2 separate regions of the Homo sapiens genome follow, and region 1 is linked to region 2. Evidence: fine-mapped expression QTL. A gene starts in region 2. The other region holds a variant in brackets. All regions are shown on one strand. Distances are from middle to middle.

Region 1 (11,269 bases), 74 kb before region 2:
GAATCTTGTGTAGTGGAAAGGAAAAGATGACGTTTGGAGGAAAGGAAGAAATATTACACACACCAAAATGGCAAACTCAGTATTTCAAAGCCAGAACTGGTGTAAATTGTGTTGCTGGTTGCATGGGGAAAAGGAAAGGTCAGTTTTAATCGTGTCCTTTCCCTATTTGAAAACGTACAAGGGTTTCTCTGCTTATTACAATTAAGTCCCATTCCTCTGTGTGGCATTAGGGCCACATTACCTTGTCCCATTCTGGCTTTCTAGACTTACCTTCAAATCAAGTGACTAGATTAGTTTCTATTCCCTAATAGTGTCCTGAGGTCCCCCCAAGAGTCCCCAGTATAAGATTTGCACAAGCAGATAGAGTAACTTCTTTCTTTGGAATTGTAGTATTGATAGGATAAGTCATCTGAAGCCTAGAGGAGCCCCAAGCTGCCTTAAAGAATAGCACTTGCCATCACAACAGTGTAAGCACAGTTTATTGGTTTGGGAACTGCCCTGAATCTAGGTTCTGATCCTTCCCAGCTGCTAATTCACTTATTTGATTCTGAGCTCTGCCTGAAAAACATTTCCTGTCCCATTATCCCTGCATCAAAGAGGCTTCCACTTCTGCTGCGTGCATGCCTTCTTTCTGCCTCTCCCTCAGTCCTCCTAACCTGAAAGCACAGTTCTGACACCTGCGTTGTCTGAGGTTTAGCACACCTGCTTACCCCTGAATGTTATACTTGTGCTTGCTTGGGTTTCTCCCACACAACAGGCTGACTCACACTTTTGTTCTGTGGTTAGTCTGAGAAGACAACGAAAAATTTTCAAAGTAGTACTAATTCCATCTGCTAAAGATTTAATATTGATGTCCCCCCAAAATTCATATTTGAAATCTAGCCCCCAGGTAATAGTATTAAGAGGTGGGATCTTTGGAAGGTAATAGGTCATGGGGGAGGAGCCCTCATAAACTGGATTAGTGCCCTTGTAAAAGAAGCCCGCGAGAGATCCCTCACCCCTTCTACCACGTGAGGACACAGTGAGAAGATGCCATCTATGAACCAGGAAGTGGGCCTTCCCCAGATATTGAATCTGCTGCTGCCTTGATCTTGGACTTCACAGCCTCCAGAACTGTGAGAATAAATTTCTGTTGTTTGTAAGCCACCCAGTATGTATTTTGTTATAGCACTTTAAATAGACTAACACTGTCTCACACCTCTGCTCAACAATTATGACTTGATTTTAGCAGCATGGTAAGGCGGAGACTGTTTATTAGATTTCATATCCTAGTATTTAGTATACATACAGAAGGTGATAATAAATACATGTTTTTCCCAATGAGTTTAGAACCACTGCCCTTAGGTAGTAACACAGGTCAAAGAATAGTGCCAACTTCTAATGATGCCCTGCGTTAGATTGCAATAAGACTTGACAGTTTTCTCATCATTCAGTATGTTCACTTTTTAAAACCGGATTTAGTTCTACTAAATCTGCCTCATTTTAATCACAAGTCTTTGCTAGGAAATGTAGAGCTAAACCAAAGTAACACTATAACCATGGAGGAGGGACTGTGTCACACAAAGTCCACAGTGGGCCTGTGCGATCCCACATTGATTCATTTTGAGTGCATCCCCCCATGGTAGTCATTGGTTATAGCTCTATGGTCTGAGGAGATCACAAAGTTACAAATGAACTCTTTTACCTTTAGCCACAGTGACAGCCAACTGCAGCTGTATGAAGTCATGAGGAATTTCTTTAGCACAAAAATGTCAGGCCACCTTCAAGGAGAGAAGCTTCTTGTTTGTAAAGGTGAGGGATAAGCGGGAGTGGAAAAAATGTCATTCACACTTTACTCGTGAATATGTTCATGTATACTAATATGGTTTAAAAGTCAGCTGAGAGGCCTGGTATAGGTGGCTCACACTTGTAATCCAAACACTTTGGGAGTCCGAGCCAGGAGGAATGCTTGAGGCCAGGAGTTCAAGACTAGCCTGGGCAACACGGCAAAATATCATTTCTACCAAAAATTTTAAAAAAAAAAAATTAGGTGTGGTGGCACACACCTGAGAGGCTGAGCCCAGGAATTTGAGGCTGCAGTGAGCTATGATCATGCAACTGCACTCAATCCTGGGAAACAGAGCAAGACCTTGTCTCAAAAAAAAAAAAAAAAGTTATCTGAAGTAATTTTAATTTTTTTATTTTGAAAATTTCATACATACCCGAGTATATTTATTACATATGTATTATTTAAAGTATAATAATATGGATGTGTATGTACCTACCACTCAGCCTAACAGACACTATCAATAATTTTAAAATACCTTATGTGTGTCTCTCATTCACATTTCCCTGTCTCCCCAGATATAAATACTATTTTGTTATTTATTTAGTTTTACTTCTTTTCACTGCTGAAGCCAGAATGGATTGTGATGTGTGAGAGAAAGAAATCTTTGTGTTAAGCCTCTAAAGTCTGAGTTATTTTTTATAGTCATAATAGAGAGATTAATAACTTGAATTTAGGTGCTGCCTAAACAAAATACTAATATGTGTGGCATTAACTTAGCAGGTCTGCAGTGAGAGGCACAGAAAGAAATATGGGAGGTTGGAAGCCTGGGATCCCTGTTATGCCATAGCAGACCAAGTGCTTACTAAGACTGTAGGTCAAAGGAAGGATGTTGGGAAAACAACGAATAATAATGTGTTGATATGGTTTGGCTATGTCCCTACCCAAATCTCATCTTGAATTGTAGTTCCCATAATCCCCACATGTCTGGGAGGGACCTAGTGGGGAGTAAATGAATCATATTGGAGGTTACCCCCATGCTGCTGTTCTCATGATAAGAGTGAGTGAGTTCTCATAAGAACTGACAGTTATATAAGGGGCTTTTCCCACTTTTGCTTGGCACTTTTCTTTCTTGCTGCCATGTGAAGAAGGACGTGTTTGCTTCCCCTTCTGCCATGATTTTAAGTTTTCAGAGGCCTCCCCAGCCATGCTGGAACTGTGAGTCAATTAAACCTCTTTCCTTTATAAATTACCCAGTCTCAGGTATGTCTTTATTAGCAGCATGAGAATGGACTACTAAATGTGTACTAAATGTTACTGGCTGCCTTTGGTAAGAGAGAATAAATTGATGAGCTTGCAATATAGCTAACTAGTTTGTAAGGAGAAATAAAAGGGAATAGAGAGAGTCTAGGAAAGAATCTAGAAATTTGGGGCATTGAAGGGCATTAAAGAGTTGGAAAGGCCAACTATTTCTAGGTCCCAAAAAGAAAGAGATAAGGCTGAGAAAAGTCAAGCCACAAAAGGCCACTAATACTCAGCCTTGTGGCAAGGATCAGATTATGGATAGGTGTTAACTTCACATCACCTTAATCAATTAGTTAAATAACCTGCATGGTAGCTGCCATTAGGCAGAGAGAGGTATGGGCCAAAGAAACAAATCATGCTCTGAAATTATATTATACATAGAACTGGCTACTATTTTGATGGAATTTATATAAACTAGGACTAAAAAGCCTTTGAACTGTAAAATCAGCTTTAGACACCCAATTTTGTTCAAACAGATTATGAGCTCTGAAAGCTATGCATCCCCAATAGAGGGCATAACCTCATCATCCACTTCGAATGTGGGCAAGAAGATGAAAAAGGAAGAAACTCCCACGGACTGGAGCCAGTGGCTACTAAGAAAAAATGGACAAGAACATTCCTCCCAAGAGCAGAGTCAGAGCCCAAGAAAGGAACCGACCCCATTCCCAGTGAAGAGGGCTTTCACCATATCTTCCCAATGGGATTTTATAAATGCTGTGGATGAGTGATGCTGTGCGTTCTTCCTCATCTGAGCAAAGGTTATTATGGGCATCCTTCCATGCTCACACACTGACTGCTACATTCCACAGTTGTTTGGGCCCAGCAAGTATTTGCCTATCAGATTTTACAGTATTTGTACTAAGGCTTGAAAGAACAGCATCCTAGAAAGACATTGATGGAAATGCAAAAAGATTGTTTAGTTAAAAAAAATCATTGTTTTAGTTATGTTCAGCAGACTTGAAAATATACCAAGTTAGAATCAATTTTAAAATACCAATTGAGATTCAAGAACCTGATTCAGTGATGCAGCAGGCCAGGAGCCATCACCATCAATGAATAGCTCAATTTCTCTCTCATGTAGTTGCCAAGAAAGATATTATCTACTGAAGAAAACCTAAATACCTGTAAGTCTTACTAAAAATATTGTTTGATACAAGTGAGCATAGGCTGACTGCTTCAACCAGTAAAACCTAAATCTCAGTGTCTTAATACACACAGAAACATACAAAAGGATTTCCTTTTCTCTCACATAAAAACCAAATGAGGATTAACAAAGTGAGAGGAATGGATGTGCTACATGAAGTGATTCGGGGACCCAATTTTCTTCTACCTTGTGGATCTGCTATCCCTGAGGCCTTGGAATTTGCTTTTAGACCCTCTATATCCACCCATAACACAATTTTTTTTTAAAGAAAAAGCACAAACAAGAAGGATCACCTGGGACGTTTTAATGGGCTAGTCACAGAAACGACATGTATCACTTATGTCTAGGTTATATTGGCCTGAAGTCAGTCGCAGGGTCACACCTAAGTGCACACAGTGTTTCACACGCCTATCTCTAAACACAGTAGCATACATACCACACACTACCAAACAGTGTTTCATGCATATATCACTAAGCAAAGAAGTATGTGTGCATCATCACACACTGGCAAACAAAGTGTTTAACACATACACTTTGTTATGTATGTGTAGCCTAGTTCTGTGTCCCATAGAAAAAGCCTAGTTCTGTGTCCCATAGAAAAAGAAAACAGTTTGGTGAGTGCATAGCAACAGTTTTTGCCACAGTCCATCAATTTGATCACCAAATAAATAGCTTTTGCTCTTTCTTCCCAGAATATACTTACCTCCTTGCCAAGGTAAGACAAAGCCCCATCCAGTCATTTTATCCAGTGCAAATTTCATTGATTAAGGTGAGAAAAATATATTTAGGTGATAACATAAAAAAAAGTTACAGATGCATAGCAAAATGGATTTTTATATTAGATTTTAAAATATTTTCTTTGCTTTTATTTTAATGCTTTATCCTTTACTTCTGGCTTTGAGAGTAACAGGGGAAAGATTTAGCTTCTTACTGTGAAGAAACAGAAAATTAGTCAAAAATATATGAAACAACTGCAGATATTGACATGCACCTTAAGACTATGACCCCTGAGAGGAATGAAGTGAGGCCCATCCATCATTCTAGATTTCTACCTGCAGGCACAGACCTCAGAGCAGGGTAGGGGATCCCAAACAAAGCATGGTGGTTTCATGTAGTTGAGAAGACAGAGGCTGGAGTTCAGGGAGGCTGAAGTGGCTGAAGTTGCAGAGCAGAGTACCAGAGAGCTAACAGATATGTAAAAACAGAATTCCAGAAATCTGCATAGGAGCCCCTTGAGAGGTGGCTGGATATTAAGACATGTAAGCCTAGAGCAAAACTCTACGAGGTCAAGCAGAGTGCCACACAGGCCTGTGAGGCATCTGAGGTCCAACTAGCCAGTGTTGAGTGTCCCAGCTGATCACTCACAGAATTTTCTAGTGATCCCACAATAGCTATGCCTTAGAAATGGTGTTAAACTCTCTGTGGGGTGAAGCTCACTCTATACTTACCCTAACAAAGGCTTGAAAAGAAGAAACTGAACTGCAATTAATTTAACTGCCTATAAGAATAAATCTATAACCAACAATGTGAAATCATCAATGCCTGGCATCTAATATAAAATTAGTAGATATTACAAGAAGCAGAAAATGAAACCCGAAACCAGGAGAAAAATCAGTCACCAGAAACAGACTGAGAAATGAAAAAGATACTGTGTAAGTATGCTAAAAGTCATTATATGCCTATCCAATTACTTAAAGGAAAACATAAATACAGTGACAGAAGATATAAAAAAAGAACCAAAAGGAACAATATCAAGTGGTTTACAACAGGCTGTAATTAAAGTCCCAGGAGGACAGGAAAGGGCAGAAAAATAATACAAAAATGGCCCAAAATTTTCCACATTTGATGAAAACTACAGATATAAGCTCATTGAACACCATGCAATATAAACACAAAACCACCCTAATAAAACTGATTTTGTTAGTTATTAGCTAATGGCAAAACGTTTTTGAAAGCTCATATTTATAGTCTATATGTATACAACCTATATGGTATAATCAACATATATTTTATGGAGTTATTTTTGTCTCATGTTTTGTTGTGTGATAAATGAGCAGGGAATTACAGAATGTTAGTATCAGAAGGCACACTGACAGCAATCAAATACACACCTCCACCACTGCAGGAATCCTTCGTATACTATTCCTGAGGAATGGTCACCTAATCTCTGCTTAAGCAATTTCAACGATGATAAACTTAC[G/A]ACTGGGTAGTTCTCCAGATAGTAATATTTTCTGTATTTCTGTAGCTGAGTTGGCAAATTGCTTTAATAAAGTTAAATGAACTCTACAAATTCAAGATTTTTCTAATTCATAGTCAGATTAATTGAATGTTAACCTGTAAAAATAATGCCCTACTGTCAAATATATGATATGAGCTCATATTTATGTAGTGCTTTATTATCTTAAAGGTACTTTTTCATAATTCAATTATATGTAGTGATTTCAATACCAGTTTTCAATATTCTGGTATACTCTGCCCTTTTTAAATACCAAAATCCCAGCACTGTTGTTACAGTTTGGTTATTCTGATATTTAAAATCAACAATCTAAATTTTTTAAATATTAAATTAGTATCTATAACTCAATTACCTAATTTATGAACAAAATTAATACAATGTACATAGTATAGAAGTCTAGACAGGTCCTCACCTGTGCACACAGCAAAAAGCAATCAAATAGTGTTACTGATAAGCTTCTGTTGCAAGAATAATTCTTAGTTCCAAATAAGTAATTTCTTATCCAGTAGAATATGAAAATAATAGTACTAAAATTGATATAGGTAACTCTGCTTTGGAATCTCCTATACATGCTAAAACTAATTCAGATGAAGAAAAGGTAGGAATAATTTATTTGAAATCAATACTATATAGCTCTTTATAAATTTTTTAAAAATCCAGCCCCAGTCAAAAATCAAAAGGTGTTTTATAAATATCTCCACAAGGTCATTAAGTAAAAAAATTGGATTATTTAAATTTAAATAAGTCAAAGGAAAATATTGGGAATTAGCATGTAATGCTCTCATCATTATTGTTTTGACATCTTGGTTGGAAAATTCTCCCCAAAATAGCTATTTTCTATTCAACATAGTACTGGAAGTGCTAGCCAGAGCAATCAGACAAGAGAAAGAAAAAAAAAAGGCATCTACATATGAAAAGAATTCAAACTATCTCTCTTCAAGGATAATATGACCCTATACATAGAAAACCCTACAGACTCTGCCAAAAGGGTCCTGGAATTGATAAACAACTTCGGTAAAGTTTCAGGATACAAAATCAATGTACAAAAAATCAATAACATTTCTATACACCAACAACATTCAAGCTAAGAGCCAAATCGAGAATGCAATCCAATCTACAATAGCCACATACACAAAGACATACACAAAAACCCCTAGGAATATATCTAACCAAGGAGGTGAAAGATCTCTATAAGGAGAACTATAAAACACCACCAAAAGAAATCAGACAACATAAACAAATGGTAAAACATTCCATATTCATGGGGTGGAAGAATCAATATTGTTAAAATAGTCATACTGCCCAAAGCAATCTACAGATTCAATGCTATTCCTATCAAACTACTAACATCATTTTTCACAGAACTAGAAAAACTATTCTAAAATTCATGTGGAAGTAAAAAGGAGCCCGAATAGCCAGAGCAATCTTAATCAAAAAGGAAAAAGCCAGTGGCAACACATTACCAGACTTCAAACTATACTGTAAAGCTACAGTAATCAAAACAGCATGGTACTGGCACAAAAACAGACACAGAGACCAATGGAACAGAATAAAGAACCCAGGAAAAAAAAGCCACATACCTACAGCCATCTGATCTTCAACAGTCAACAAAAATAGGCAATAAGGAAAGGACTCCCTATTCAACAAATGGTGCTGGAATAGCTGGCTAGCCATATACAGAAGGATGAAACTGGACCCCTACCTTTCACCATATGCAAAAATTACCTCAAGATGAATTAAAGATTTAAATGTAAGCCCTCAAACTATAAGAATCCTAGAAGAAACCTAGGAAACACTTTTTTTTTTTTTGAGACAGGGTTTCATTCAGTTGCCTAGCCTTAAGTGTAGTGGCATGATCACAGCTCACTGCAGCCTTGACTTGCCAGGCTCAAGTGATCCTCCCACCTCAGCCTCCCAAGCAGCTGAGACCATAGGCATGCACCACCATGCCTGGCTAATTTTTTACTTTTTGTAGAGATGGCAGTCTCACTATGTTGCCCAGGCTGGTCTCAAACTCCTGGGCTCAAGCAATCCTCATGCCTTGGCCTTCCAAAGTGTTGGGATTACAGGCATGAACTACTAGGCCTGGCCCCTGGAAACACCATTCTGGATGTCGGCCTTGCAAAAGAATTTATGAGTAAGTCGCAAAAGCAATTGCAACCAAAACAAAAACTGACAAATGGGACCTAATTAAAGAGCTTATGCACAGCAAAAGAAACTAGCGATGGAGTAAACAGAAAACCTACAGAATGGGAGAAAATATCCATGAACTATGCATCTGACAAAGGTCTAATATCCAGAAACTGTAAGAAACTGAAACAACTCAGCAAGCAAAAAATAACCCCATTAAAAAAAATGGGCAAAAGACACGAACAGACACTTATCAAAAGAAGACATACAAGTGGCCAACAAACATGAAAAAAATGCTCTACATCACTAATCATCAGAGAAATGCAAATCAAAACCACCATAAGATGCCATCTAACACCAGTCTGAATGGCTATTATTGAAAAGTAAAAAAGCAACAGATGCTGGTGAGACTGTGGAGAAAAGGGAACACTTAGACACTGTTGGTGGGAATGTGAATTAGTTCAGCCACTGTGGAAAGCAGTCTGAAGATTTCTTAAAGAACTTAAAACTACCATTTGACCCAGCAATCTTATTACTGGGTATATATCCAAAAAAACACAAATCTTTCTACTAAAAAGACAGATGCACTTGCATGTTCATCGCAGCACTATTCACAATAGTAAAGATACAGAATCAGCCTAGGTGCCCATCAACAGTGGACTGAGTAAAGAAAATGTGCTACATATACACCAGCAGTTCCCAACCCTTTTGACACCAAGGGCTGGTTTCATGGAAAACAATTTTTCCACGGACTGTATTTTGGGGAGGGGATGGTTTTGGGATGAAACTGTTTCAGATTAATCATTAGTTAAATTCTCATCTGGCATTAGAGTCTCATAAGGAGTATGCAACCTAGATCCTCCACATGCACAATTCACAAGAGTTCGTGCTCCTATGAGGATTTAATGCTGCTGCTGATCTGACAGGAGGTGGAGTTCAGGTGGTAATGCTTGCTCACCTGCAGCTCACCTCCTGCTGGGCAGCCCAATTCCTAACAGGCCATGGATGGGTAACAGTCCACGGCCAGAGGCTGGGGACTCCTGATACACACCATGGAATACTACACAGTCATAAAAGAAATGAAATCATGTCCTTTGTAACAATATGGATGCAGCTGGAGGCCATTTTCCTATGCAAATTAACACAGAAGCAGGAAACCAAATACTGCATGTTCTCGCTTACAAGTGATAGCCAAACACTGGGTACTCATGGACATAAAGACAGCAACAATAGACACTGGGGACCACTAGAGGGTGGAGGAAGAAAGGAGAGCAAACATTGACAAATAACTTTCGGCTACTATGCTCAGTCCCTGGGTGATGGGATTATTTGTGCCCCAAATCTCAGCATTATACAATATACCACGATAGCAAACCTGCACAGGTACCTCTGAATCTAAAATAAAAATTGAAATAAATAACAACGAAGAAAAAATAAAATCCTTATCTCTCACTGTAAAAAAGTAAAAATAAAAAGACCAAGGTGAAGTCAGCTCGAGGAGAGTTGGAAGAAGTTTCATTCAGTTTGAGAGATGAAGCCACACTAAACCAGCAGAGTGGGTCCCAATCTTTTCTGTACAATTTCCTGGGGGAGGCTTAAAGAAATACATGTGAGATCACAATCCTGGGGGTGGTGCACATGTCTGAGTATTTTACTTTTAGCTCTTCAGGTGAGTCTGACACACAGCCAAGGTTGAGGACCCATGTAAGCAGGCGGGCCAGAGTGCTTTTTGTCCGAGGCATGTCCTATTCTCTGGTCCAGCCACACCTGCAGCACTGAAACCCAATGTCTCCAAGCAGCTGACCTTTAAAGGGTCCAATTCTTCTTTTAAGAGGAGGCTGTTTGAAGAGATGTGAATAGAACATGAATAAGGACAGCGAAGGTACAAATATGCTAATAAAGCAGATATTCCAACCAGTTTATTGTATTTTTACACACACACACACATATACACAAAAATAAATAAATAAATAAAAGCTCTATACCCAGTGATAGCACTAGTGATGATGCACTTTTGTATTTTTAGGATCATATTATTGAGAAAGATCAAATAATATTTCATTAACATTTATCTACTAATATTAAAATGTTAATGTATATTTAACATTTTTACAACAACTTTACTGAGGTATAAATCACAAAACATACAATTAACCCACTTAGAGTATACAATAGTTTTCATTAGTTTCACAGAGTTGTGCAACTGTCACTGCAATCAATTTTAGAACATTTTCATCCCTCCAAAAAAGAATCCTGTACCTATTAGCAGTCATTCTCCATCACCGACCTTCCCCCAACCCTCAGCAACTATTGATCTATTTTCTGTCTCTATGGATTTGCCTATTTGGGACATTTCATATAAATGGAATTATGCAATATATGGTCTTTTGTTATTCCATTATTTCACTTAGGATAATGTTTCCAAGGTTTACCCATGTTGCAGCATATATCAGCATTTCATTCCTTTCTACTGCCAAATAATATCCATTGTTGGAATATACTACATTTTATTTACCCAATCATCAGCTGATGAACATTTGAGTTGTTTCGACTTCTTGACTATTTGAATAATGGTGCCACAAACCTTCCTGTACATGTTTTTACGTGGACATGGGTTTCCATTTTTCTTGGGCATATACCGAAGAGACTTGCTGTGTCATATAGTAACTCTATGTTTAACCTTTTGAGG
Region 2 (11,269 bases):
TTAGCTATGGATACCACCTCTGCATACCTTGACCAAAAAAGGGGGAATATAAACTAAAAAAAAAAAAAATCCTAAGCCCCCTCAACAGACTGAATGTATCCACCTCTTGGCCAAAGGGAATCCCAAAGAAACCTGACAAACTAGTTCAGGCCATTATGAGAAGTGGAGGGTTGGACATGCCACACTATACCTTCCCCCAATTTGGAGTTTAGGCACAAATGACCAGCATTAACATTAAAATAGAGATCACATAAGACTGACAAGACAGACTCTGTAGCAATAAGATACACACTGTTATGTTTCACTTACTAACAAAGTCTCTCAGAAGCTCAGCAAACATGTGTTAATGCTGCAAAGCTTTCCCAAATTTATTTTATTCTAGAGTTTCCTGTATGAAATCTCTTATGTTAAATAAGTAAGAATTTGGACTAAACAGTTATGCCTTTATAGTTATAGTCTTCTGTTATCTCTTCATACAGGTCCTCATATTTCTGGTCAGGAATATTGTCAGATCTTTTATGGTTTCGGTTGGAATTGTGGGTGGGATCATTTAAAAACCCTATTTTCTAACTGGTTATTGCTGGCATTTGTTTTTTTAAATAAATATTTATTTCATGATTGTATCCAACTATTTTCTAATTCTTTATTAATATACTAATCTTTATAACTGTATCACTTCCTCTCTAATAGCTATAACTCATTTCTATTTCATATTTTATTGCTTAATTAGAACTTTCAAAAACTATATTGCATTTTAATAATGGCAGCAGGCAGCTTTGGTATTTTTTCCCCCAAGAATGGAAATGCCTCTACTATTTCATTGTTAAGTATTATGCTAGTTTGAGATAAATAGAAGTATTCTTTTCCTTGTTTTGAAAAACAAATGGAATTTTATTTTTAAAATTTTAGCATTTACTGAGGTGATTTAAAAAAATATATTGGATTTATTAATATATTACCTACTAGCCAAAGGTATTTGGGCATAGAAACCAGCCTATAAAAGACTCAAAGGAGAAATCCAGGATGAAGATGTAAACTTGTGTGTTGTCAATAAGTCTTCTTTTTTTTTTTTTTTTTGGATGGAGTCTCGTTCTTGTCATCCAGGCTGGAGTGCAATGGTGCAATCTTTGCTCACTGCAACCTCTACCTCCCGGTTCAATCGATTCTCCTGCCTCAGCCTCCAGAGTAGCTGGGATTACAGGCACCCACCACCACACCTGACTAATTTTTCTTTTGTTATTTTTAGTACAGACACAGTTTCACCATGTTGGCCAGGCTGGTCTCGAACTTCTGACCTCAGGTGATCTGCCTGCCTTGGCCTCCCAAAGTGCTGGGATTACAGGTGTGAACTGCCGCACCTGGCCTCCATTTTTCAATCTATAAAACGGAGGTAATGATATTATTTTCAAAGGGTAGTTGTGAGGTTTCAATTTTTTTAAAAAACGTACTTAAAGCCCTACACAAATACTAATTCTTCTTGCTTAAAAAAAAAGTCACCTGAACATTTTCTTTACCATTTTCTTATTACTAAACTTTGTTGTGAAATTCAAATTAAAACATAAAACCAAATTTTCTACATACAGTTTCCTATGAATCCTAAAAGGCTTCAAGAGGTGACTTTGAGAATATAAAGCTCTTTGGAGTTGGCTGTGTTTACCACCTGCCTAAAAACTAATCCAGTGACAAGCAAGATCAAACAATAAGCAGATGAGAAAGTAGAAATAAAAACTACTCTTTTGAAGGCTTTTGCTGTAAATGGGGCAGGGACAGGGGATGCTAGCTGAAGGGGAAAAGTGGGGCCAAAAGAAGCCTGTCATTTGTTGTTTAGATAAAATAAATTCAGCATGTTGGTCTGCTGTTGGGAATGATCCAGTAGAGCAGGGAAAACAGACAGTGTAGGGAAGAGAGGGCCATCACTACAGTGATATCCTTGAGTAGGTGCAAGTAGGTAGGATCTACTCCACAAAGGGAGGAGATAACCTGAGACAAGAATAAGGACAGATCATTCATAGAAACAAGAGGGAAGAGGATGTGCAAGGGTGCAGGTAGATGGGTAGCTCTGTTGGTAGAAACAGGTAGAAGTCCTCTTCTGATTGCTTCTCTTTTTTCTTTGAAAGAAGAGGGTAAGCTCATTACCTGAGAGTGTGATTGAGTGGAGAGGTGGTAGAGGTTTGAGAAGAAAGCAGAAAGGGTGAAAAAATTATCTGAACAGTGAATGTACCCCTATTTGTCACATGTGCGCATATTTCCAGTAATAAATTCCTTTTAAAACACCTTTAATATTGCCCCACTGCCTTCAGGATAAACGTAAATTCATTAGCATCATGCAATCTTCTTGATTTATCTCCTTCATAAACTTTAACCTCATCTCCTAATGCATTCTCATTATGACCTATGTTCCATTTTTATCAATTACTTAGCATATTCCCCAAATGGCTTTATGTTTAATGCTCCTGTGGCAGACTGTATTTTCCAAAGATGACTGCCAATAATATATCCCATCCCATGTGTTGCTCTGTAATGTGACCTTAAAAGCAGTCTACCTCTCCAGTCCCTTGAATCTGTGACTACTATGACCAACAGAATACAGTGGATATACCCCTGTGCCAGTTCTGGGAGTAGCCCTTGACTGGCCTGGCAGTCTCTACTTATGTCTTTTGGAATGCTTGCTCTTGGGATACATCCTCTTGGAACCTAACCACCATGCTGTGAGAAGAAAAAGGTACAAGAGGCATTTCTGACAGGCAGCCCTAGCTGAGCTTCCAGTCAAAAGCCAGTGTCAGATGTTAGCCATGTGAATGAGTCATCACGGAATGACCAGCTCACTTGAATCTTCAGTATACCTGATTGCAACCAGAGACCCCAATCAAGAACCATCCAGGTGAACCAACCCAGTTAATCCACAGAATTATAAGAGTTTGTTGTTTTAAGCTCCTAAATTATAGGGTGATTTGCTATGCAGCAAAAGACAAGCAGAAGTGTTTTGAGTGTGATGTGGTAGATGGAAGTTGTATTATCATTTACTGAAGGCATGGTAAATAGATGATCTAGGATCAAGTCATGGCTCTGCCACTACCTGGCTATATTACCTTAGAAGTTATTTGAATTCCTGAATTTCATTCTTCCATATATGGGGATAATAATAACTACCTCACCTGACACAGTCCCTGGCTTTAAAGGAGTAAATGTTTCTGCCCTTCACCTTAGGCCTTACTTTTGGCCCACTAAGGAAAGAACTTTCTCTCCTATCATTCTGACGTTTTCTCTTTATACCCACATACTAGCTCCTTCTTTTGAGAACTGCTACAACTTGTTGAGCCACATTTTACTACTGGGCATAGTTATTGCATGTGTACCTGTGAGCATGCCTTCTGTTTTTCCTGTAACTGGGTACATGAGGACGTTCCAGTTACCCTGCCAACGCAGCTACTTGATAAGTACACTGAGAGCCTGCCCCCAGAGACTGAGGTTATATCTAAGATATAGATATGGAGATAGAGGAAGCTACTTCAGCCTTGGGACAAAGTAGTATTCTGCAACCAAGCTTTAACAAAGCACTGGGTACTTATAGAAAGTGGCATTTTATTTCCCATATGGCCACTATTCCTTTTTGTTCATGGCTCCCCAATTGAGGAAGAGTATAAATGTAGCAGGACGAGCCACAGACAAAACCCCTCAGACACCAAGTTAAAGAAGGTAAGGCTTTATTCGGCCGGGAGCATCAGCAAGACTCACATCTCAAAAAAATGAGCTCCCCGAGTAAGCAATTCCTGTCCCTCTTAAGGGTTTAGAACTCTAAGGGGGTCTGCATGAGAGGGTTGAGATTGATTGAGCAAGCAGGGGGTACGTGACTGGGGGCTCCATGCACCAGTAATTAGAACAGAACAGAACAGGACAGGGATTTTCACAGTGCTTTTCCATACAATGTCTGTAATCTATAGATAACATAACCGATTAGGTTGGGGGTCAATCTTTAACTACCAGGCCCAGGGTGTGGTGCTGGGCTGTCTGCCTGTGGATTTCATTTCTGCCTTTTAGTTTTTATTTCTTCTTTCTCTGGAGGCAGAAATTGGGCATAAGACAATATGAGGGGTGGTCTCCTCCCTTATAAATGCCCACCCTGATAATCCTAATAAAGTCCTCCTGTTCTTTAGCATTCAGTTCAAACAATGCCTGTTCTGGAAAGCCTGTCTTTATTAACTCACCCGAATTCTGTTAGGTTTCCCTTCCCTAAGTTTTCATTTATCCTTACATAGAACTTATATGACTTCTCATATCCATAATCTGATTTGATACTTTCTCCCAATAGTCAATGAACCTCTTTAGAACAGGGAAAACAAAGGTCTTCCATTTAAAGTGTTGACATATGGCAGGGTCATATCTTGCATACATTACAAATTTTAAGGATATATGAGTGTGTAGGTACACAGCATCCTCCACACCAAACACACATTCTTCCAACAACAATAGCTAAAACCTAGATACGGATTTTAAACATATCCCAAACCTAGAAGTTAAGATATAAAGAGTGTAACTTGAGGTGAATAGAAAACTGGTGATATTTATTTAATAAAGAAATAATATATTGATGTCATGTAACAAAGTTTTTGCTAATTAATGAACATTTTGAACTTGAAAGGTAGAAAAATAATTAAATAGTAATAGGTTTGATATTCTGAAGTATCAGTTTTAAAGCCTCTATCATAAACTATCATTAATGTGGCCAAAAAGCAATACTGAAATGTTGGTACTATTATTCAATATATGGAATTTAATGCACCATAGATATCCTGGTAAAATGAACAATAATTATACAGGAGTCACAAATATAAGTATTTACTTATATACCTTCATTGTCAGTATTGAGTTTGGCTTCCAGTTCCGTAATCTTGTGTCTTAGTTCAAATATTGAGAGTTGCACTGCATCCCTGTTATTTAAAATATTTTTGTTGATTATAATTCAATTAAAAATAACATCAGAAAAATAATACATAGTAACCCACTACTACTTCAGGAACAATTTACTATGACACATTATTTACTGAAGGACTGGTTAAGAAATAAGACTCAGGCAAAGGAAGGCTTCCAATTAGTCAGTTCTAGGACTCAAATATGCACTAAAGCTCAAAGACCCCCAGGCAACCATTAGAAATCTTTTATTTATTTTTATTTATTTTTTTGAGACAGAATCTCGCTCTGTCGCCCAGGCTGGAGTGCAGTGGTGCAAACTCGGCTCACTGCAACCTCCGCCTCCCGGGTTCAAGCAATTCTCCTGCCTCAGCCTCCTGAATAGCTGGGATTACAGGCATGCGCCACCAAGCCCTGCTAATTTTTTTGTATTTTTAGAAGAGACAGGGTTTCACCATATTGGCCAGGCTGGTCTCGAACTCCTAACCTTGTGATCCGCCCAGCCTCGGCCTCCCAAAGTGCTGGGATTACAGGCGTGAGCCACCAGGCCCGGCCCTTGGAAATCCTTTATTTTTAACTTAAATATCATCCTAAAGAAGTTAGTTACCTGGTTTTTCAGAACCAAGCAAATTAGGCACTGCACATTATTACAGAAAGGCATACCTAGGGCAATACATAACAGCTGACAAACTGAAACAAAGAGAAAAAAACAAACACTAATTTAAAAGGTTAGCTATTTAGGGCATCAGTAAATAGAACATTATCATATGACAGGGCCATTTATTCAATAAATATTTTTGAGTGCCTATTATGTTCAAGGCATTGTATTAAATACGGAAGAATTCAGTGAACAGTGAACAGAAAAATAGCAATAGCGGCAGCAAAGTTCCACTGGATGCGTATCACAAGCCAATGCTAAGTTCTTTATAGTGCATTTCATTCCAACCTGGGAACAACAGCAGGAGGTATGAGATGACTATTTGTATACCAGTCTTAGAGCTGAGAAAACTGAGGATTAAAGAGGTTAATTAACTTGTCTAAGATTGCATAGTTACTGAGTGACAAGAGATGGAGTTTGTGTTTTTGCAGGACTGTCCTCAAGTACTTGCTCTTATTCTCTACTTCCTCAGAATACACAGAACCTGTCCTCAGAACGCGTGTAGTTTGGTAGCAAAACAAGAAATAGACAGGCAATTAAAATACTGTGACTGGAGCTACAATAGAGGAAAACCCAGAACCCTATCTAGGCACAAAGGAGAGTCCAATTCTCACGGGACTTGTGGATGGAGTTGGGAGTATGTCCAAAAAATACTTTAAATGTTTCAAAAATTTAACACGAAGTACGAATACTGTTTTTAAAAAGCATAAAGGAGGAGTAACAGTTTTACTAAATGTCATTTTATGAAGTTCCCCTTAAAGGGATGAAAGAAAAAAAAAACCCCGTATAACTAAATAAAATCTTTGGAATTTTAAGCAGAAAACCTGGATTTATGGAGACATCAAAACCAAACACAACTTTTGGCATTACAGTATATGGGCAAAATACACGCCATATGATTGGATCCTTAAGGGCAGCACATCCTACCCGGAAAGCTGCCTACTTAACAATACCAAAGGCTTACTCAAAGAGGCACGTGAATCTTTCGCATGGAATACTTTTGGAACCCAGACCGAAGTGCCCAGGGGTTAATCACGGCGCCGGTCTTACAGCACCCTCAGCGGCTTCAGCCCTGAGACTCTGCAGGTGAAGGCTCGGGGGGTGTGGACGGGACCCCACACCGCGCCGCCCGCCGACTCACTTCTTGCGGACTTCTTCCAGCAACTGCTGTTTCAGGCGGTTGGTGCTCACACCGTCGAAGTTGTAGTTTCTCTCTTCCTTCATAGTGTCAGGCCAGAGACCTCCCGCGTCTTTCCCCTCAGCACCTTAGAGCACAAGACATTAAGGGCCACCCAGAAGCCAGTACGGCACGAGGCGGTGAACCCCAACCGCCCCCCGGTCGCACCTCCCGCGCCTGCCCGCAGAGGCACGTGGTGACGTCATAAAGCGATGCCCGCAGGCGGCAGGGGGTGGGGCGAGGGCAGCCGGGGAGACTGGAGAAGCCTACTCTGTGCGGTGGAGCGACCCTGGATAACAGCTCCAGGGACACTCCTTGCTCAAGACGCTGGGGTTAGACGTGCTCCGGCTACACAGCGGAGTGTCAGGGGGCCAAGAATATCCCTCTCCTTTTTCTTCCCTCCTGCTGGCTTTGGTTGCTTTCCTAAACATTGCCCCGGACGGCAAAGTCGGCTTCACTCTTAGCCCTTGTTAGGGAAACGCTGGATCCAAGATTAGCTGCGCCCTTCTTTGCTTCAGTTGAACAAGCACCAGAGTCGCTGATTTGGCAGTGTCGGAGCGGGAGGAACTGGTCTTAAAAAGGTACCTCCTGAACTCGGGAAGACTGCTAACCCTCCAGATTATTGTTTTGCATCTGTGTGCTGTTCATGAACATACCTCAGAGCTGCTCACTGCAACTTGAAATTTCATTATATTTTTAATCACAAAGTTTGCATCCTACCCTTGATACATCTGTGTTTCCTTGACAAAAAGAGACAAACTCTGTAAAATATTTGAAGAGATTTATTCTGAGCCAAATGAGTGACCAATGGCGGGTGACAGCCCTCAGGAGATTCTGAGAACACGTGCCCAAGGTGGTCAGGGTACAGCTTAGTTCTATACATTTTAGGGAGACATGGGACATCAATCAAATGCATGTTAAGATATACACTGGTTCCATCGGGAAAGGCAGGGCAATTGGAAGGGGTGGGGGACGGGGTGGCTTCCAGGTCACAGCTAGATTCAAAGATTTTCTGATTGGCAATTGGTTGAAAAGTTACTGACTAAAGACTTAGGAATGTCTTTAGAGAATAAAGGGGTTGTGGAGACCAAGGTTTTAGTGAGAATGGGATAATTGGTGTGGAAAACACAATTTGGTGTCAGAAGTGTTGTGAATACATAGTTTTCCAATTGAGTTTCTGGATGAGATTAACATTTCAATTGGTAGACTGAGTATAGTACATTGTCTTCCCCAATGTGGGTGGGCCTCAGCCAATCGACCGAAGACAGAATAGAACAAAAAGGCTGACCTCCCAGGAGTAAGAGGGAGCTCCTACAGCCAAACAGCTTGAGCTGGAACACTTTTCCAGCCTTGGGCTCAGACTGGGACTGCACATCAGTTTGCTTGCATCTCCAGCTTGTCAACTGCAGATCCTGAGACTTCTCAGCCTTCATAATTGTACGGGCAAATTCCTTATAATAAATCTTTTATACACACACTCCCTATTGGTTCTGTTTCTGTGAATTACCCTAATATAGGAGGTATGCTTATCAAAATTTTGTCTAGCTGTTAAGTCTGAAAGGGCAACTCACAACCAAGTAAACAGAATAGAATGAAGTGAAAAGGACTAGATTATCTGTTGACAAATCCAAATATACAGAGGATTTCTTTTTTGAGACGGAGTCTCATCTGTCTCCCAGGCTGGAGTGCAGTGGCACAATCTCAGTTTACTGCAAACTCCACTCCTGTGTTAAAGCAATTCTCCTGCCTCAGCCTCCCAAAGTAGCTGGGACTACAGGCACGCACCACCATGCCTGGCTTAATTTTTTTGTGTATTTTTAGTAGAGATGGGGTTTCACCATATTGCTCAGGCTGGTCTTGAACTCCTGACCTCGTGATCCACCCACCTCTGCCTCCCAAAGTGCTGGGATTATAGGCATGAGCCACTGCACCCGACCCAGAGGATTTCTTAAAAAGATCTGTTAGCAGGATCTCACTGTGGGAAATTAGGAGCAAAGGCAAGCAGAAAACAGGTTTGTCAACAACTACAGAAACCACAGATTTGTGTTTCTGGCAGAGATAAAGGACCTGAATTTACCCTCCTGCCTGAAACAACTAAAAAACTAAGAGGAACAAAAAAAGAACATTGAACATCAGGCAATAAGGGAAAACGATCACCAAGAGATGAGACACAAATGAGGCAAGCTCCCAAATTGGCCTGGGCCTGCCAGGGTACAAAGCAGAAAGGGAGAAAACAGGCAGAGGCTGGTGGTTGCCCTAAGTTGAGGAAACGGAGTTTCTCTAAGAGTCTAGAGAGAACAAGGCAGCTAGACTTTGCAGGGCAGATATTGGAGGGGAGAGCTGCACAGGGTGTTCCCAGACCAAACTGAGGGTTGGGTTGCTATTTCTTGTGACCCAGTAAGAACATGTAGATGAACTGGGGAGGAAGAGAGTTTTTATTTCTGGAACCAGTTACAGGCAGAAGCCCTGGAAACTATAACCAGACCAACTCAAAATTACAGTTTTCCAGACCTTCTAAGCTATATGTCTATGTGTAAGTGTGCATTCATCTATAGACATTAAGTGGTTAACTTTTTATAATCTACAACTAAGGTCTTGAGTCCTGAAGACCTTCCTCTGGAGCCTCAGTAAACTTAATCTAAATGGGTCCAGGTGCTAGGGTGATTACCCCTGTCTCCTGCTAAATCAGGGAGGTTTGGGGATTCCTTCAGAACCCCAAAAAACTTGTTTAATCCTAAATGGGTCCAGCTAAGAATTCCTTCTTTTTTTTTTTTTTTTTTTTTGTCATGCTTTGAGACCTAGTTCTTGGTGGGTTTTTATTACATTCCAGCCTTTGTATAAGGGCTTTGGTTTTTTTAGCTTTTAGTATTTAACTTAGCCACTCAAGTCAGTACTGAAACAGTTGTTATGGAGGCCTGTGTTAATGAGACCTGGCCTGCCACAAGGTACACTCTGCAGCAGAATACTGATGAATGCACACACATGGTGGGGCAAGTACTCAGGCTGGGGAAAGAACCATCACAAAGGATTAGAGGGGAAATCCTTACAGTTTACAGAGGTAGGAATAATACCTGCTACCACCCACCAGAATGGAAAACCTCTGAATTCACAGGGCATCAGGTACACAAAGGATTTTGATTTAGGAGTCGGAAAAAACACTAGCCCTAACAAGTTGAAAAGAAAGATCCAAAAGTATCCAACTGGTTCTAAGTAACTTAATCCCCTCCCAAGACAAAACTCGAGAATATTTATAGGAACACAAAACATCCAGTACCCAATAAGGTAAAATTCACAATGTCCAACAATATCTTTAGTCTCGTTATGTTGCCCAGGCTGGTCTCAAACTCCTCGACTCGAGAGATCCACCCAACCTCAGCCTCCCAAAGTGTTGGGATTACAGGTGTGCACCTCTGCACCCAAGGTAACATTATTTTCTTAGGGTATGTTAGAACTCACCTGTAAGTCCATCTGGGGCTGATGTTTCTTTGTGGGAAGATTTTAAACTCCTTATGGAACTTGTTTAATCAGCCAAAATACTCCTAAAGAATTTGGTTGAGGGAATTGAGCCTCTTGCCCTAACAATCAGTAGGGCTTACTAATTTACAATGATGACAGTGTGGGACTGGCACAGGAACAAAAGAAATGACAGATGGAACAAACGTCTGAGCCCAGAAACACTCATACTCTATATATAGAGAAAGACCTGTGGGAAATTACTGAAGAAAAGAACTATTCAATAAATGGGGGTTAAATAACTGATTATCTACGGGGTGGGGGAGGAGGGGAGGAATTAGATACCTTACCTCTTGCACACATATACACAATTCTCAGTAAACACCTAAACATGAGAAGCAAAATTGTCAGCAGTGACAACACGCAAATTTTACAGCACAGGCAAATGAATGGCAAATGAACATGAAAAATTACTGATCTAAGGTCAGGAAAGGAGGTCAAGAAAACACAAATTAAAATTATGAGATACTTTTTTATATATGCTACATTAACAATAAAAACATTGCAAAGGGAAGTAATACTCAAGAGAATATCATCATTTTGGAAAATACCTGGCATTATTTTGCAAAACTTGACAAGCCAACAACTCCACTCTTACGCATAAAGTCTCTTGCATATGTGTACCAGGGGACAGTCAAGGATGTTTTGAGTGTACTGTTTCTACCAACAAAAACTAAAAACAAATGTCAACTGATAGGAAAATGAACACTTAAATTGTGGTATACTCACACAGAATACTATAGAGCAAGTAAACCATCCATGCATATAAGCGCAAGAATGAATTTTAAACATAAACTCAAAAAAGCAAGTTGAGTAAGACTTCACATTCAGACACTATATGTAGAAAGCTTCAAAAAATGAAACAGTATGTTTGGAGAACATACATGTGTGATTAAAAAATGGCAAGGAACAATAAAAAATGACATGGGGAAAGAGGTAAGAAAATAGGAAGAACATACATATAGGTAATTGGCAGCTTTCCATGTCTTTAGGTGTGATGAGTTTTTAAGTGT

Alleles and levels. Positions count from the first base shown, and alleles are read on the strand shown. Sizes are in standard deviations (SD) of each study's normalised expression.
For the expression in fibroblasts of the gene that starts at base 6,885 in region 2, G is the high allele of the variant in region 1 and A is the other (moderate effect, 0.48 SD a copy in GTEx).

The links.
Region 1: its variant is fine-mapped to the expression of CCDC169 in fibroblasts (GTEx, PIP 0.96).

The regions. Positions count from the first base shown.
Region 1 is chr13:36,216,964-36,228,232 of GRCh38, forward strand. It overlaps CCDC169-SOHLH2 (CCDC169-SOHLH2 readthrough), which reads right to left. Exons shown (of 16, transcript NM_001198910.2): 6 at 10,385-10,418. It also overlaps a transcript of CCDC169 not described here. Among named protein-coding and RNA genes, the nearest start is that of SOHLH2, 8.0 kb to the left of the region's middle. The variant G/A (reference allele first, on the strand shown) is at 6,415.
Region 2 is chr13:36,290,930-36,302,198 of GRCh38, forward strand. It overlaps CCDC169 (coiled-coil domain containing 169), which reads right to left and starts at 6,885. Exons shown (of 8, transcript NM_001144981.3): 1 at 6,708-6,885; 2 at 4,849-4,928. The coding sequence starts at 6,790. It overlaps CCDC169-SOHLH2 (CCDC169-SOHLH2 readthrough), which reads right to left and starts at 6,885. Exons shown (of 16, transcript NM_001198910.2): 1 at 6,708-6,885. It overlaps SPART (spartin), which reads right to left. Exons shown (of 9, transcript NM_015087.5): 9 at 10,709-11,269. RefSeq lists enhancers at 6,512-7,473, 7,474-8,436.